Linked DNA regions of Homo sapiens: region 1 is linked to region 2. The links come from fine-mapping of genetic effects on gene expression. Tissue or cell type: esophagus mucosa. Region 2 holds a variant in brackets; the other region holds the start of a gene. All regions are shown on one strand. Distances are between the middles of the regions.

Evidence for each region. PIP is the estimated chance that this variant, and not a neighbour inherited with it, causes the effect.
Region 1: it holds the start of HEG1, and the variant in region 2 is fine-mapped to the expression of HEG1 in esophagus mucosa (GTEx, PIP 0.97).

The regions. Positions count from the first base shown.
Region 1 is chr3:125,054,958-125,057,659 of GRCh38, forward strand. HEG1 (heart development protein with EGF like domains 1) reads right to left here and starts at 1,040. Exons shown (of 17, transcript NM_020733.2): 1 at 618-1,040. The coding sequence starts at 933. RefSeq lists silencers at 534-693, 754-843, 924-1,303 and an enhancer at 1,554-1,603.
Region 2 is chr3:125,139,158-125,141,770 of GRCh38, forward strand. The region is part of intron 5 of SLC12A8 (solute carrier family 12 member 8); the gene reads right to left. Among named protein-coding and RNA genes, the nearest start is that of MIR5092, 11 kb to the right of the region's middle. RefSeq lists a silencer at 2,424-2,613. The variant G/C (reference allele first, on the strand shown) is at 1,171.

The DNA.
Region 1 (2,702 bases), 84 kb before region 2:
AACAGTTCATTGGGAAAGGAAAGGGGAGGGAGGAGGCTCAGGGATGGTCCTGTATCAGCCTGTGCCTTGCAGGGGTTCAACCATGCAACCCCAACCGCGTTCCTTTGCTTTTAAGTCGAACCAGTAGAGCGTTTTGTTTCAAACTACGTACATCCTTTGTCCTTTACAATATCCCGTCCTAGAACCCCTTAAAAATCAGTTATTTAGATGAGAAAGTCGAGCCCTGTACCTGGAGAGGCCAGTTCTGTATAGCGGAAAAAATGAAACTGGGGACCGGCTGGCCAGATATCGGAGGTGGGAGAGATGCTTTGCAGTCTTTTTCCCTTTCCTTTCCATTTTTTTTAAAGTGGGGTGGAAGAGATACAGGGTACCCCATAGGAAATAAGTTTTCTTCCAAAGGGTTGGAGGAGAACGGGATAGTCACACCCCTCAGTCCAGCCAACTGCGAAAGCGTCCCTCCCTACCCGCCGACCCTCAGGGTCCCGCACACGCCGGGCGAGGAGCCCCCACCCTGGGTCGCGCCGCGCGGAGGGGCCTACGGCTGGGGATGCAGCCCGGGGCGCGCCCACGCCCCCAGCACAGACTGGCCAGGCGCCAGGTTCCCGGCTCTCACTCACCCGCGCTCCCGCCTCTGGGGGCCCGGCCGGAGGGTCCCCGCTGTGTCGCGGCGCCTGGCTCAGGGGCCCTGTAGCTGGGGCCGGGGGTCGCGGGCCCGCGGCGCTCCCGGGGCGGCGTGGGCGGCGGCTCGCGCTCCGGGCGGCGCTCCAGCTGCAGCTCCAGCCCCGCTCCCGCGAGGGGCGCCAGGCTCAGCGCGCGGCGAGCCGGGGAAGGCGGCGGGTCCCGCGTCCCGGGGGCCGCCGGCGGCAGCAGCAGCAGCGGCAGCAACAGCAGCAGGAGCGGCGGCGGCCACCGCGAGGCGCGCGGCGAGGCCATGGTGACGGCGCCCGCCCGCGCTCACATGCCCGGCGCGCGGGGCGAGGGCAGCGGGCAGCGGGCAGCGGGCGGCGGGGGCCGCGCGGGGCCGGGGAAGTGAGCGGAGTGAGGCTGCGAGCGCGCTCCCCGCCTCAAAAGTTATCGGGAGCCGCGGGAGGGCTGCCGGGGGCCGGGCTGGCTGGGCGGAGGCGGCCCGCGGCGCCGCTACATGCTAATTAGCCCGGGCGGGTCGCTGGCTGGCGGGCGGCTCCTCCTCAGTTGACATCACCGGCCCCGCGCGGCGGGCCCGGAGGCGGGGAGAGGGCAGGAAGGGGGCTGGGGCCGGGCGCCTGGAGAGCGGCCCGGCCCGGGACAGCGGGATGAGGTCAGCGGAGCCACGGTGCTGCAACTTTTGTCACACACATGCTCCAGAGTCTTCTGAATCGGGCACCACCTACCCAACTCCTTAAACGCACAAGAAGTAGGTGAAAAGCAGGTCCTGGGTAATGTGATTAGCACCAGACTAGATTATCCCAAGTGCTTTGATAGGAGAGAGAAAGGGAACGGTCCCCTGGTACCCAGCCCGCGCTGTCACCGCCGTTATTGATTTGAAGTGTCCCCACTCCCACCCCCACCTCCCCTTCTTCAGGCCCCAGGGCTGGTGATGAGCTCGTGTTTGCCAAACCTAACACCTCACCCTCCGGCCAACGCGAGAATCCGAGTATCCCCCACGCCCTCTCAAGCTTGGATGCCGTTCCCATCCGACCACTGCCTTTGGCTCACACCAGAGTTCTGCAGAGATGTCACCGCGAGGACACCCAAACAGGCTGCAGGGAAAAGAAAACTGTGAATTCAGGCAGGCTAGGGCAAACTCATCATCAGGAAAAGAACTGCAGATCGCAAATTAAACCAAATGATGCCCAGAGAACACAGAATTTTAAATGGAAACCTATGGGGAAAGATTCAAAGATTTCATGTAAACAAATTTTCTTGGTCAATAAAGTTCCATTTGTTTCCATAACCTCTCCCTCCCCAGTAAATGAATAATAAACTGTCTAAAGTTTAGGACTGTAAGCCACCTCATTAAGTGAAGAAAGAGGGGCTCAAATGGGAAAATAACTTGCTCAAGATTCTGAAGGTAGACCCGAAGACGAAATGATTGATCTGTGAATGACCATGTGATATTATTAATTCTGGTCTCCTAATTCAGAGTTTGCAATAATTCGCAAACGGAAACAAATAGTATTGCAACAGAAACAAATGTTGCAGCTCCTTGGGGTTCTTGCGAGTTCTGTTGGGGGCCCCTGTCTGACAACCAAATGCTCGTGAAAATATGAGTATGCACCTCACTGTCAGGCCTGGCTCTCCATCCTATTTCTCTGCTCTTCTCTTTTTCTCTGTCTCCAGATCTCCATGACCCACCTCCAGGAGAATGAGATCGTAGTGTCCAGGGCAGCTGCAGATGGGCCTAGGCCCACTTTCTGGTGACTCAGTACAAGTGAGTCATTTGGCAGAAAAACATAAAGGAGGCTGTGTATAAACAAACTCACCTTAAATGAGAGAATGAGGAGTAAAGATTTGGTTTTATTTTGTTTTGTTTTTAAACAAACCAGCTTTCCAGGGCTCTAACACAGAACTTCCAGGTCTCTCCAAGAAAGTACCAAACAGTAATCTCCCTGAAACTGACTTGGTTTGCTCCCATGGCCTGAGCTTAACTTCTCTGGATGCTGCTCTCACATTAACAGGCAGGACTGCACAGCTGCCCAGACCCAGCCAGACAAGCCCCAACA
Region 2 (2,613 bases):
CAAAATGACTTGAGTGGCTTATGAGAAAAACATAAACAAGACAGGAAAAATAAAATAAGGACCAAAGAAAGAAAGAAACTGAGCAAAAGAGAGAGAGGGTGAGAACACCCCCAGTCGTACCTCCATGACCCACAGTCTGAGGCCTTATTCAGAGAGAATTTTCTAACTCTTTGACCAAGCGCACTGAGGCAGGGCATTGGATCTGGTGGCCCATCCCTCACATGGGCCACTTTCCAGTGGACAACAAGGAGCCCCCAAAGCTGGCACAGTGGACCCTGCCTCATTTCCTCTGCCCCTATTTTCCCAGGCCCTCATGACTTGCACCCCTCACCTATCACCACCCCACCTCACGGTCCCCTGTCCTGAGCCAGTCCCCAAAGAGTCTTGCTCACTGGTCCCCATCCTGCCTGCTGGGGCCTGGGTCTCTTTCCCACACCCTGAACCTGGTGGCCCACCCAGACCTCAGGCATGGTTGACTCTCTGTTGGGCTTATGCAGAGTGGGTGCCCAGGGGAGGCACTCATGTCTCTGACTGGCCGGTACTGGCTAGCTAAGCATGGTGTGAGGTCAGTGGGTCACACCCAGGGTAGGGCTGAGGTCCATGCCGCCTGCCATGCCCTCCGACAGTGGCTCTTAATGCCTGACTTGCTGATGCCCAGAACAAAGGTTCCTAATTCTTTTAGTTGCCCCCATTTGAGAGTCTGATGAATACCATGGTCCCTGTCCCCATAGACACCACATTTTGCATACCATTTTGGGGAAGGGCAGATTTCTGAAGCCTCTCTGGAGAGCATGGACCTTAAGGTTCGAGACCTCTACTCTAGCAGCTACATCTGCACGTGAGATTGTCCCGCCAGGAGGCACCTACAACTTCCCAAGGCCTGACTGCCACCATGCCCTGCCTCAGAGTGGACAGCAGCCCTGAGAGTGACATAGCCAATAATGTCTTCATGCCACAGTCCTTGCCAAGCAATGGCCAAGACTGTGTGCACAGAGATTGTGCAGGTCACTCCAAGGACACCACAGGGCAACCTCACTTCTGAAAATAATGCTGAGCGACCAGTGACTGAACCCTTCCTACGTGCCAGCCACTGAACAACAAGACCTTACAATGTCATACTTGTACGATGACTAACTGAGGACACTGAGGCTCCGGAACGTGAAAAAGCTT[G/C]TCCGAGGGTTACATAGCCAGATCTGCCTGTATTTCACCCACTGCCTCTCCCGGTGGCAGAAGCCAGGCCTCTCTCCAGGAGGTGGGTTCCCAGGCCCTGGCACTGCACCCCCTTACAGCACAGGTTGCCTTTCAGCCCCAGGAAACATGCCCACAGAGATCATGGCATCTCCCCCGGCCCCATTTGTGTAGGGCAGACAGGAGTCCTATCCTGTGGAACACCATGTGCCTACCGGTATGCAACTGGCTGGAGCTTACACAGCTGGGAGGACACAGCCTGTCCTGGACCCCACATCTGAGTGAATTCAGGCCTCCATCTACCACACTGACCCTCTGTAATCCATCCCAAAGTCATTCCCCAGGAATTTCCTTTTTTTTTTTCTTTTCTTTCTTTCCTTTTTTTTCTTAAAGAGGCAGGGTCTCGCTCTATCACCGAGGCTGGAGTGCAGTGGCACTATCGTAGCTCACTGCAACCTCAAACTCCCAGCCTCGAGCAACCCTCCCACCTTGGCCTCCCAAAGCACTGGGATTACAGGCGTGAGCCACCACGTCTAGCCTCCCCAGGGATTTCCAACACTTGTTTTTTGACCTCAGAAGAGTCTCTTTGCCTCTCTGTTGGGCTTTCAATTCCTCTGCTGGTGAAACTGAGTCTTGTGGTCTGGGGTCCTGTCATCTGACATCTTTCAACTCTCGAAGGCCTGGGATGCATGGGGCCTGCAGCTGCTGCGTGTGAATGGATCTGGGTTTGACCTGAACATCTGTTTCTCTATCCACGGAATAAAAATACTTTGGTCCAGTTTGAGCTGTATGCTTTTAGGAAGAACAAAAACAAAAAGGGGGGTGGGGTGGGGTGCGGGTAAGACAGAGAACAAATGACAACAAGACCCAGGCAGGAACAGGCAGAGGGAAAGTCCTTGAAGCTCTGTCTGCAGAAAGGCTTGATCTTTCCACCCGGAATTCGGGTAATTCAGGCTTCTTGTGATGCGGCCAGTGGGCTGTGGCTCTTCAGGGCCCACCATCTGCTCCCAAGGGGTGCTCGTGGGAGCCTACCCTCCTCCCCTTAGCCAAAGGCAGGCAGCGGGGGTCACTAGTGGGACTGAGAACTGCTCCAGCAGGGCTGCTTGGGGTGCCCAGCAGCCGGGCATGGGACCCTTGCCCTGGGTAGGCGGCTGCTAGGGGCTCTGGGTGGCACCTGCGGTGCCCCCGACATCCCCTCCCCCTACGCCGCTGGGGGCTGCTGAAATTAGAAGAGGGAGTCGGGAAGTCATACCCCTCCCTGTGGGCGTCGGGTTGCACTGTTGACTAACTTAGAAAGCGAGATTTCTAAAAATGATGCTGGGGCTGCAGGCTGCGGGCTGCGGGCTGCGGGCTGCGGGCTGCTGCCGCGGCGGGGGCTTCCGGCGGCGCTCTCTTCTGGGTCCCCCACCCCTGGACCAGCGACCG